Linked DNA regions of Homo sapiens: all the other regions are linked to region 1. The links come from fine-mapping of genetic effects on gene expression. A gene starts in region 1. Each other region holds a variant in brackets. All regions are shown on one strand. Distances are between the middles of the regions.

Region 1 (4,245 bases):
TTGGGAGGCTGAGGCAGGAGAATCACTTGAACCCAGGAGGCTGAGGCTGCAGTGAGCAGAGATTGCGCCACCGTGCTCCAGCCTGGGTGACAGAGTGAGACTCTGTCTCATAAAAGAAGAAAGAAAAAAGAAAAATACTCTTTTTTAATTTAATGACTAAACAGAAATGTGAGGTGGTTACAATACCAAAAAAATAACAGTAACTCTGACATGTGTGCATCCATTTGTTTCCAGAGAATGGAAGGAAACTGGGAGGGAGAATTCTACAGACTCCAGGTGGGAAATACTGTCATACTTACTGTAGGTACCACAGCTATGTGTGTGCAATGCATCTATTATGGAATTGTGTTCCCAAAAATATATGTTGGAGTCCTCATCCCCGCTACCTCAGAATGTGACCTTATTTGGAAACAGGATTTTGTCAGAGGTAATCAAATTAAAATGTAGTTATTAGGGTGGTCCTTAGTCCAATAAGAATCGTGTTCTTATAAAAGGAGAAAATTTGGACACAGAGACACACACAGAGGGAAGACGATAGGACAAGATACAGGGAAAGGAAAGCAGGTTCAAGCTGAGGAGAAAGACCTGGAATAGGTCCTTTCCTCACAGCCCTCAGAAGGAATTAAGACTGCTGACATCTTGATCTAGGACTTCTGGCCTCCAGATCTGTGACACAATACACATCTGCTGTTTAGGTTACTTAGTCTGTGGTATATTACTATGGCAGCTGTAGTAAACTAATACAGAAACCACGAACGACTGTATTTGAGGCGCAAGTCCCTACCTAATTTGCTCATAAATTGCCTTCTCTGAAATCCCGTGTCCTCAAAGGGAAATCACGATTGCATTAAATGGGGGAAGCTCTCTTATAGTACCACCTCTAAGAACACATAATTTTATTGACTATATATTATGCACTGGTACTAAGGGCTTGGCCTGCCTCACCTCCTTTATCACCTCCATTTTACCCAGGAGGAAACAGACACAGGTGCACTTTGTCTATCATAGATAATAATTCTTGCTGAATCCAGGCATGCCCCTGTCCACTATGTCTGCACTAAACTAGAAATACACTCTCATGTTTACACCTTTTTTTTTTTGTCTTTTTCCCCTTTTGTGGAGAACAGGGTCTCGCTATATTGCCCAGGCAGTTCTTAAACTTCTGGGCTCAAACTATTCCCCCAACTCCCACTTCTGCCTCCCTAAGTACTGGGATTACAGGTGTGGGCCACTGCGCCCAGCACACCCTCACGTTTTTAAAGTCTTGAAATTCTCCTATTTCCGCTTCTCAAAAGGTCCAATCCTTTTCCTTAAACGTGAATATACCACATAAACGAACACGAAATAGAAACAGGGACAAAAAAGTATTTTTTTGACGATGGCAAACGGGAAAAAAAAAAAAGAAAGCTGTTTAGGTGGCATTTGAAAAGTTAAAAAAGAAAGAAAACTCAGAGCAGCCCAAAAGACAGATGATACCTAAGAAGGCACAACCAGCAAGACATGTTGACTGTTAGTATTATTTCAGCATCCTCCTTGAGCAGCTTGGCTTTGCTCTGGGACAATGCACCAGCCTGGGATGCTCAGAGATGCAGGCACGGAGGTTGTGCAGCCTCTCCGCACACTGCGCATGCGCGGCTGCCGGTTCAAGTCGCGGTCCAGGACCGCAAGGAGGCGGGCAAGCGAAACTGAGAAAAACCCACCCACGGTCCAGGGACTGGGGGCTCGGGCGAACCCACCCAGGGACCTCCTGACCAAGGCCATTTGTCTGCAACCTGATGGCTAGAAGTGATACCACCCTGAGCATCTTCAATCCCCTTTCCCCACTCTACAGCCCCTTGTACTGTCCCTCCTTCCTCATTCACACCCCTGATCCAAACTCAAGCACTGAATTTGTCCCCAGACGAGGGCCTCGGCTCTGCGCGGCCGCTGGCTGAGTAGCTTGGCCCGATTCCGGGTGTGAAGTGAGGAGGAATTGATGCGGGTAAACATACAGCGCCGGCCCGCGCCGCATCCCGGGTCTGCAGCTACAGCTGCGGCGAAAGCCCAAGGTGCGCGTGCGCGGAGCGCCACTAGGCAGCCCAGGACGCGCGGGCTCGGAGCCGGGCGAGGGGCCGCGGAAGGCGCGTGCGCAGAGCGACCCCGGGCGCGCGAGAAGGTCCTCAGTGCGCGTGCGCGGGGCGGGCGGGTGCGCGCGCACTTCCTCCTCGCCCCCACCCAGACCCAGAAGGCGCCACCATGGCGGCGCCCCCGCAGCCCGTCACCCACCTCATCTTTGACATGGACGGACTTCTTCTGGGTGGGTAGTGTGCAGCCGCCGCCTCCAGTAAGGGCGGTCTTGTGTGGGCGTGGGGACGGTCGGCGCGGGGTACGTCACGGCCTGGGGGCCGCGGCGGGGCGGTGTTCATGCAGGGACGCTCGGGCTCCCGCGCGCTCTGCCCCCGGCTGGCCCCGAAGTCGGGCGGCGGCCAGGAGCGCCCGCGGGCCCATGTCCGGGCTGGCGGGCGCGCGTGGCCGCGGCGTCTACGCGGCCCCAGCACCCGCTTCCGGTCGGCGGCCCGCGCGTGGGGCCGGAGCACGTGGGAGCAGTCCCTGGGGTCCACCGGGCGGGCGCGCGGCTCCGCGTCCTCTCCTCAGAGCGAGGCGCGGCGGGACCTCCGCGCTCTCTTTTCGGTTACGCATGCGTGCGACCTTGAGCGGTGCCCAGCCTCAGCTTCCCCGTCTGCAAAGTAGCCTGGAGGATACTTGCCTGCCTGCTCCAAGGTTGCTGCTGTGGGCGCACTTTGATGGTAGCATCCTGCATGGTAGCGGTTCTCTACCTGGCGGTTTTGCAGCCCTGAGGGCATCTGGCAATGGCGATGTCAGGAGACATTTTGGCTGTCACAGCTGGCGAGGAGTGATGGGGTCACTGGCATCTAGTGGAGTCCAGACCAGTGATACTGTTAAACTTCCCGCAGTGCACAGGAGTGCCCTATGCAACCATAAGGAATTATCCCGCGCCGTCAACAGTGTAGAGGCACAGAAGGTCCGTCAAGTGGCCTGGCTGCCTAGGGTGACCAGCACCGGGGACATCACCTGTGGGCTACTTGTAAATGTAGAAGCTGGGGCCCCACCCTACCCCTGCCCAATCAGAATCTGCATTTTAAGCGCGTGAACGTTTGAGAACAGCTGCTCTATCAATCCGAGGCATTAAGAAACCCTTGGCAGTGTACTAAGGTAGTCAGTCTTAGCACATGTGAACTTCACCAGCCAAGAGGAATTCAAGTAGAATTCAAAGAATAAAACCCTGTTTTTAACTCAAGACAGAACTATGCTGAGCTCTACCGAAAGCCTTGACACAGTTAACACTATGACACATAATCACCAGGAGGCTTCATATATCTATAAACATGTCTGCATACTCTTTGTAGACAGCTGACCTGCTTGGTTACGTATATCATTCCTTCATTTCAAAACCCTGCAAGTTAGGAGGAAGTATTTGCATGTCACTAATTAAAAAAAAAAAAAAAAAAAAAACCCTGCAGCTCAGAGAGGTAAAGCTACTTGCCCAAGGTCACACAGCTAATAAGCCAAGCTGAGAAACGATTCTGGATTGATCCAGTTCTAAATATAAATGATGTTGAGCTCATCTTAAATTGTGAATGTGACCTTGTTTCTGCTCATCATATTGCTGGGTAATTCCCTAGCAGTGTTTCCTTTTAAAAAGGCATGCAGAAACCATTCTCTTCATTTTATGAACACAGAGGTGTAAACTGATGAATTCCAAAGGAAAAAAAAAATCCCCGTAGAGGTCACTAATTGGAGCCAACGGTGTATGCAGCTACTAAATTTGAAATGACTCAATTTCAGAAAGCTTGTGGGATACATAGGTATAGTTTGTAGACATGAATTTTCCTACTCCGGTGGTCAAAAAGTTAAATTGTCAAATAAATTTCTTATCCTCTAATAAAGGTCCAGAGAACCTGTTCTGGGAGTCTCATGAATTTTAATACCAAACAAGATGTCTCATTAAAATTAAATTTATTAAACTTCTAAATGAGCTTGGTGCCTAATTCTGATTCTAGATTCACACATAGCCATGCCCTGAAGTGATGAATGTGACTTAAATGGCATTACAAGCATTGACCTCACATTGTTACCCAATCCTCTGATCTAGTCAGATAACCAAGAATTAGTGCTATTTGGAAAAATAAGCCCTGCTTCTTTTTATTCCCCCCCCTCATTTTCTGCCCATTTCCTCCTTTCCTG
Region 2 (4,245 bases), 110 kb after region 1:
TCCCAGCACTTTGGGAGGCCAGGGCAGAAGATCGCTGAGCTGAAAAGTTTAAGGTCAGCCTGGGCAACATAGGGAGACCCAATCAATACAAAAAAACTTAAAAATTAGCGGGGCATGGTGGCAAACACCTGTAGTCCCAGCTACTCAGGAGGCTGATGCAGGAGCATCACTTGAGCCCAGGAGTTCAAGGCTGCAGTGAGCTATGATTGTGCCACTATACTCCAGCCTGGGCAACAGAGCAATACTCCATCAATCAATAAATAAATAAATACAGAAATAGACCCCATCTCTAAATAAATAAATGCATACATAAGTGAATGAATGAAATGAAGGAACAATCCGAGGAAAGAACGATATTCATCCCAATGGGATCTTGAGCTCTGAGTAAACCTAGGATTTTCTTCCATCCTTTAAATGTATGACTTTTTTCCTATAATTTCCTTTTTGCTGTTTTAATAGAAGTATATAGTAACATGAAGTGACTAAGTAATATGTATTAATTTCTTCCCAATCACAATGGTATGAGTTTTGAGAATAATATTGGTCTATTTATCAATTTTGAGCTTTTTTTCCCTACCCATTGCACTATACTACTGGGAAGAATCCCTGTTCTTTTTAAACCTTTTAGTTTGTTTACATCAGTCAAATGCTACAAGCAAGAGGTATCAAAACTAGTGTCTTTCTGTAATCTCTCAGAAATCTACACACTTCACCTAATTTTAATTATTTTTAAGGATTATATTAAGCATCATGAAAATGAAAAGAACCCCCTATGTGTTCACTGTTGGGGGCTCTGAAGGTGATTTATACAACAAATCAGAATCCTCTTTCGTGTATTGCCAGCCTACGTCACATAGCCCAGATGGATGCTCCCTAATATTTCATGTAAATATGTGCTATGCTCACCTGGGCCAAATGTCTGCTCCACTCATCTGGGCCAACATTTTGGGAACTCCCAAGAGAAGGCTTTCTGCACAACAGCATGTTGAGCTCAAGTGGGAAAAATGTACTCTATAGCACAGATAAAATGGGAGGGAAAGAATAAAATGGAAATTAAGGTAAAAGGATATATATATATCTGCATCCTCTGGTGCATTTCAATCAAATAGCTTAGAATTGAATGTGGCTGTCTATATAAGCAATCTAATTGTTTTGGATTAAAGAAAAAAAATGATGGCTATATACATCATTCTCATAGAATTACAGTTCCTCATCAGGTTTGTTCTGTAGCTCCTCATCCTCATTAACAGCATTTTTGCATAGTCTGTCCTTATATAGCATTAAAACTGCCATCATTATACTGGTAAAATTTTCTGTGCCTTATACCTGTGACTTTTTGGATTTGAGTAGATTAGACATTCTCTTCAGTCCTCCCCTCACCCCATGAGATTCATTGGAAAGAAAAAAAAAGGAATGAATTTGAAAGAAGGAATTTATCTTTTCTTTTCAAATGGTAGTATAAGTATATTTTTGTCTCATTTCCTTTATGAAACCAATCCAAAGCAAACAAGAGAATAAGAAACAAACAAATGTTATCTTTGATGAAGCTACAGATCCCCTATAACCCTGGATCACAGTAGATGCAGGAAGATAGCCAAGTGTATGAAAAGTGGATGGAGGTATTTGGGAACTCCAAGAGAAGGTGTCTGTCTATGTGTGACTCAGGCAGAGTGGACCCAGTTCATAGTTATCCAAAGTGGTTGGGTGGCACACATTGAAAGGAAATGTGTTTATCCCATGCTTAGAAAGTTAAGATCAAGGTTCATGTCCTGGTTTTGGAAGCCTACATCATGTTTCAATCATGGCATAGGATAGAAGGAAGAGTCAATAAGATAAAAGCTACCTGGCCATCTTTGCCCAAAGCTGCCTGGTGAAGATAAGTCAAGGTAAAATAATCACATTAAAATGTTCTGTAAAATGCACAGCCTCCTTGTGAGCC[T/C]GGAAGATGTCCTGCTATGCTGGACCAGATAACCCACAGGCCAAGTCCAGCTGAGAAAAATCCCAGAGATAACAGACTGAAACCAATCTTCCCATTTGTTTAGCACATTCCTCTTCCCCTTTCCCCAGAACTTTGCCCAAAATTCTAGTCCAAAAAGATGAGGAACAGTGCTACTTAAAAAGGGTGGAGCCAGCCGGGGGCCTTTAAAATGATGCTGAAATGAAAAAAGAAGAACAGAACATGATTTATGAAGATGAGAACCGGAAAGATTGTATACCACAACGCAGCCAAAAACCGTGAACAAAGTTATTTCTAAGGAATCAATTAAAGACAATATTGTTTCTCTGAAATGAGAATTTAAAGAAGCAATATAAGGCTTTAAGGAAGAACTGATAATACATTAGGTTAGACGGGAATGAAAAGTGAGTGGGTAAAGCCTCAGAAATAAATTACTAATAAATGAGAATGAAAAGGGAGCAGACAGAGTCTTGGAAACAAATTAGAAACAAATGAGAATAAAAACGGAATAGGCAGAGCCTCAGAATCTCAGAGAGAGAGACACAAAAAGAGACCAAAATCAAAGGTCATGATAGAAGCAGCAAAAAGGAGATGAGACACCACTGAAAGAATTTGAAGGATGGTTTTGAGAAGAAAAAATGAGCATGTGAGATGGAAAAGAACAAAAAGTAAAAGATGGAAGACAGAGATAGAGAAAAAGAGGGGGATGGGAGGGGGTGGTAGGGAAGAGATCAAATATCTATAACACTAAATGCCTTGCATGGGTTAAAAAATGAATGGAACATGAAAACAAATTTTCAAAGATACAATTCAAGGTGAAATTCCTGAAATACAATGAAATTTGAATCTGCAGACAGAAATAGCCCAAGAATTACAAGGCTGTGTTTATATTGAATAATTAACAAATATCCCAATAAATTCCTGGTATTTGAAGTTATGGAAAGAATTCTGTGGATATTCAAAAAAAACAAAAACCTAGGAGGCTAAGATTTCTTTATGTGACACATGAAATGCTAGAAGACAGTGGGGCAAGATATAAAAAGTCCTTGTCCCTTTTGTGTTGCTATAAAGAATACCTGAGGCTGGATAATTTATAAAGGAAAAGGGATGATTTGGCTTATGATTCTGGTGGCTGGAAAGTTCAAAATTGGGCATCTTTGTCTGGTGATGGCCACAGCCTGCTCCCACTCATGGCAGAAGAGGAGGGGAAGCCAGCATGTGCAGAGATTACATGAGCGAGGAAGCAAGAGAGAAACCGGGGAGGTGGCCCGCTCTTTTAACAACCAGGTCTTGCAGGAACTAATAGAGGAAGAATTCATTCACCATCAGGAGAGGACATTAATCTATTCAATGGGAGGGATCTGTCCCCATGACCCAAACAGCTTCTATTAGGCCCAGCCTCCAATATTGGGGACTAAATTTCAACATGAGCTTTGGAAGGATCAAATATCCAAACCTTAACAGTCCTCAGGGAAAGAAAATGTGCCCCAAGAATGCAACCAAACAAACTTCCATAAACTTCAAAGGCTACAAATAGCTATGTACAAACATACAACTCAGGAAATATATATTCATGAAGAAAACAAATGAGTAAAGGCTGGATCCTCAGCAACTGAGAGGAGCTGTGTCTAAAAGATTTCTTGTAATCTTTAAGGATGCATTATGGTTAAATCTGTGGAAATTATGGTCCCAGAGAAGAAAACAAATACCATCAACTGTGACAATGTAGAGATAATGTAACCAATTAAAAATAAAATAGCAAGTGCAGTTGAAACTGAAATTGACATCAAGGGGACACTGATTTTCTCATTTTTAGTTCCAAGATTCCAATATACATTGTTTTAAAACTTATATCAGGCAAAACTGCATGTACAGCATGTGTATTCATTTCAGAAAAATAATTGCATAAGTGGTTAATGACACCAGGAAACCTAATTTTTGCAGACTATGTATATATTACCTCAAAATAAGAATATTATAGCATTATATTCATTTTAAGAATATTTAGTAATAAACCCATATATATCGTATAAAAAGTTATAGTCTATTTTGTTCCAATACAATAAAAATCATTGATATTAATTAAGCAACTTCTATACAGAAGGTGGGTGGTTTTCAACTGTGAGTCTGTTTTGTCTTAAGGAAGTTAATATCCCTTAATCCAAACTTTCAAAATAGTGTTCAAGGAACAGGAATGTTATTCTTAACTTGAAAATACTTTGCCCATACACATAATCTAGTTGAATCCATAAAGAGATTGTGGTGTTTTGATACCTAATAATTTCTTT
Region 3 (4,233 bases), 200 kb before region 1:
TTAAAGCACAGTAAGACTTTATTTAGGACCATCATGACAGGTACGGGGACCACAGCAATGGGGACTTGTAGTAGGGGAGAGAGACTGGACTCAGCTCTGAATACACCATGGAAAACTGGGGATTTATAGACAGGGAACAGGGTCAGGGGCAGTGGATGGAAGATTACCAAGAGGAAATATCAGGGAGCATTCATCTAAACCGACCTAACAGGATTCTAGCTGAAGGCAGGCCAGTTGACCAGACATCACCTGGGGGATGGTGGAGGCTGAGGAGCCTGATCAGATACTGAGGTTGAACAGATATGGGGGGGTTAGGTGTTCTTGCTAAACTGACCTAATAGACTTCTTGCCAAAACTAGATTTTACAAGGAAGTGCCCAGATTGGGCCTGGGAGAAGGTTGAGGAGCTTGGCTAAAGTTTGGCCAAGTGGAGAATCTTTGTCCATGAAGCCTCAGATGGATGTGAGGTCCGTAGAGGTCAGACAGCTATGATTTAAGAGGTTTTGAGCATTTGCATCACACATCCCATTCTCTAGGCATTAAAGAGAAGGCAACAAGGCTTTAGCTTTTAGAAGTATCCATGTAATCAACACCTTTCCTCCCGGGCATGTCGGCTCCCTATGGCCACGCACTCTCCAGCAGCCTCTTTATGGACACTTTTTGTCATTTTAAGAGAATAGCTCGATCGAATGAGAGCCGATCCTAGTCCCAATACCATGCCCTTCTCACTCCAATTTCTTACTGTTTCGGGGTTTGTTCTGATACTAGTTTGGTTTTCCAAAGGAATCCAGTTGAAACAAAGAGAAGAGAGAATAATACTTTTCAAATCAAATTTCTGCCCCAGGTATTTGTAGAGCAAAGCAGCTGCTTCACCAGGGTAGGATACCTTCCCCAGGGCCCAGTAAGACTTTCATGGGCCACAAAGGCAAAACATATTAAATATATTTTAATATATAAATATATAAAGTAAAAACATATTAACATACTATTTTATGACTATGTTGGTGCAAATACCAATATGATTTTCAATCCCCAATGTTCATTTCCTTTTCTTCTGATTATAAAATAAAACATTTTTGTAGGCCCCTTAAAAGGCCTTAGAGAGTGTGCCTTATGGGTAATAATCGGGCCTTTTCCCACTCTCGGATCATGGAGGTCGGAGCTATTTTATGTCTTATTCTTCTCTGCATTTCTCAGCCTCTCTCTTGAGCTAAGAAAGTTGACGAATCTTTGCAGAACTGGAACTTGTATTCCCCATTGCTTGACATCAAGTTGGAAATGTAGTAAACATTCCCCACATTGTTGAATTGAGTCACGATAGAAAGCAGGGTATTAGCGCACAGCATTTTTAATTGCCAAGGAAAATTTTATTTTAGCTTTGCATTAACATATTCTAAATAATCCTTTCACTTAATGCAATCAGATTCCTGTGACAAGCCAAATACTTGTTTTTTTGTGTGTGTGTGTTTCCCCTTCACTTTTCATTGTATGCCCTTCAGAAAAATCTGAGAAGTGGGCTTCCATTTTTGAAAAACAGGACTTCCTTAGTACCATAGATACGTAGATTGCAATTTTGCTTTTCCTGCAGCATTACTGACCTTGTGAAATGATGCCTATGTATACGTCATTAATCTATTTGCTTAACTTTTAATATCTAGTAATGCTAGAAATACAAGAATTTTTTAAAAGAATTTGCTTAAAGCTTCAAAACTCACTAAGGTTTGGATATGCAACTCCACAGGTAATATGAATGAGATG[C/T]TTTGTAAACAAGCAGCCATGCCTTACAGCCTGCAACAAACAAGCAAACAAACAACAAAACTATGCCTTAAAGAAGGTTTGTGAGGTTTCTCCTGGACAAAGGAATTCCAATTTCCTGTTTTACATTCAAATCAAAACTTTCAGATGGTAAATGGTTTGAAATTTAAGATGACTACAGTTACCACAAATCGACCTGATTTCCAAATGTCCTGAAATGTGATCTCAATTATTTTGAGGCACTTTTAAACTCAATGTATTTGCATCTAGAGATATACTTCATCCTTCATTTGCTATTGACATTTTACAGGTTAAATAACTGGTTCTAGACACAAATAGGCATTCATATAATCTATAAAGGCTCTTCAAGTTATTTAATCCTGCAGCATTTCCACATCATCAAGTGTTTTCAGAAAGTCTTACTTGCATTGAATATGTTAGACTTTGAGTAAACATTGTCATCTTATAGGATAAATTTATAATAGTGCCTTTAAATAGTTTCCACATGACAGCATCAGTAGCAATCCTAACACATCATCAGTAAGCTAGTACCCTCTCTAAGAATGTTTTCTAAAGCAAGAATACAGATTATCCCACAATTTCTGGAACGAGAAATCCAAGTTAAAAGGAAGAATCTTGTATGCTTTTCAGCTTTCAACAACTCTGGAGGTAGGGGGTAGGAATCACTTCTTTCTTCTCTTTCTTTTTTTTTTTTTTTTTTAGAAAGAGAAGCAAAATTAACGTTTGAAATAGAAGAACTTAAAGGGCAACTGGGGAAATGCTGTCAAATCCTCCCAGCCCAATAGTATGCCCCTCTTGCTCCAACTTCCCAGGGTTGTGGGTAGGGATAGAGAAATTATAGCCAACTTTCAGAAAGCCCAAGTCATGGCTAACATTCTCTGCAAACCGCTGTGTGGGTTACATTACAGGTGTCCCATTCATGGGCACTGTCTTGGAATTGAGCAAACTCTGGGCAAATAGAAGGTGGTCAGACAAGTCCACAAAAGAGATAAATGCATAAGCAGGTGGATGGCAGCTTCTCTCGATTTTGCCATAAAGGAATCCAATCACATTGTTGGGGAAAGTCTTATATCTGAAGAAATGATTGCACTTTACATTCCATAGGAGGCTTTCCTCAGGATGGGCTGGTGGTTTAGACTTTGAAACTATCTCCAGCTGTGCCACTACGAGGCCCTCTCCTAGGCGATCAGTTGCGCATTTTCCCTGATTTACAGGGGCTTGGGGGAAATGGGATGAAAACAAAATCATGCATCTCATTGTGGATTGGAAGCACAGAAATTTCTCAGTCACAAAACTTGCATACATGACTGTTCTCTGATGACTAACTAGAACTAAAGGAAATTATGCTTATGTGTATAGATCATGGATTGCTTGTGAGTGATTTTTGTTCCCCTCCAAATATCAGAGACTTTCTAGGCCAATGATTCTGAATTACACTGGAAGAGATTCCATGAACCACAGCATCTCCACAGTGGGCTTTTAATTCAGAACTTCCATTCCCCAAAGAAAACAGTGGAATCCAAGAATTATACTACAAATTATGGAATGGAAAGCAGTTCAGGAGAGATTTGCCTTGGGATTATTATTACTGTAAAATTTTGCAAAAAATCATTGTGCAAAGAAATCTATTTGTGAGCTTCTACTGTATTTACTTAAATAGTGTTAAGCTTCTAGGTCCCTATTTTAGACATCTTAACCCTTTTGAGGAAAGAATATACTGTATGTGTGTGTGTGTATGTATGCATAACTATATATATGATGAAGAGCAAGCATTTGATATGTGTTTTAACTAATACCAGTAATAATGACTTGCCTTCCAATAACCAAAGTGGAACTTACCATCATCTATTATTCCTAAAGAAGATCTTTCATTCACCTTAAAGTTACTTATGTTTAGACGACTAAACTCTTTTTTATGTGATTGCCTTTTTATTATGCTGGTTATTGCATCACTGCAGATTATAGAGTAAATGGTAACTTATACTGTTGACATAGGTATTTGCTGAGGGGTGAGTTAAGGTACCTCCTGCACCTTTCTGTTTTAAGATTGCCTTCTGCACCTTTTTGTCATCTGCTTGCACTGGTGTGCCTTGTGAATGCCCCTCTATTCATTCTATTTCCATGAGTCCAAGACTCTGGCCACAGAAGGCATAAACCTACCATCTTCCTGTCTGTATACTACAGACCTTATCCCCCTCACCCCTCCAGTTGAGTAGCTGTTGAGCTCTGGCCCAAGCCTTCAGGTGATAAAATGGAGAATCAGTCCAAATCCAAGGTGTAGATGGAGTTATGTTTCCCCAGTGCCACTCTCAGGCGTGTTTGTAGTGAAGATGGTGAGCTTTGCCACATGCGTCTGTCTGGTCCCCAGGCGCTGCTAGCGGCTCAGTCTCTTATCCTGTTTTTCTCTATCACACTGGCAAGACAGGCCGGTGGAAGGACAGCACAGCTGAAGCCAGGG

Direction of the effects. Positions count from the first base shown, and alleles are read on the strand shown. Sizes are in standard deviations (SD) of each study's normalised expression. Not every link is listed here.
As copies of T replace C in region 3, the expression in aorta of the gene that starts at base 2,637 in region 1 goes down (small effect, 0.32 SD a copy in GTEx).

The links.
Region 2: its variant is fine-mapped to the expression of STS in whole blood (TOPMed, PIP above 0.99).
Region 3: its variant is fine-mapped to the expression of STS in aorta (GTEx, PIP 0.99). The same link has a PIP of 0.9 or more in tibial artery.

Annotation. Positions count from the first base shown.
Region 1 is chrX:7,146,104-7,150,348 of GRCh38, reverse strand. STS (steroid sulfatase) reads right to left here and starts at 2,637. Exons shown (of 11, transcript NM_001320752.2): 1 at 2,266-2,637. PUDP (pseudouridine 5'-phosphatase) reads left to right here and starts at 2,196. Exons shown (of 4, transcript NM_012080.5): 1 at 2,196-2,296. The coding sequence starts at 2,236. It overlaps MIR4767 (microRNA 4767), which reads right to left and starts at 2,489; the gene lies at 2,412-2,489. RefSeq lists an enhancer at 1,717-1,766 and a silencer at 1,957-2,676.
Region 2 is chrX:7,034,956-7,039,200 of GRCh38, reverse strand. It overlaps a transcript of PUDP not described here. Among named protein-coding and RNA genes, the nearest start is that of STS, 110 kb to the left of the region's middle. The variant T/C (reference allele first, on the strand shown) is at 1,940.
Region 3 is chrX:7,350,178-7,354,410 of GRCh38, reverse strand. STS (steroid sulfatase) reads right to left here. Exons shown (of 11, transcript NM_001320752.2): 11 at 1-4,233. The coding sequence ends at 4,150. Among named protein-coding and RNA genes, the nearest start is that of PUDP, 200 kb to the right of the region's middle. The variant C/T (reference allele first, on the strand shown) is at 1,758.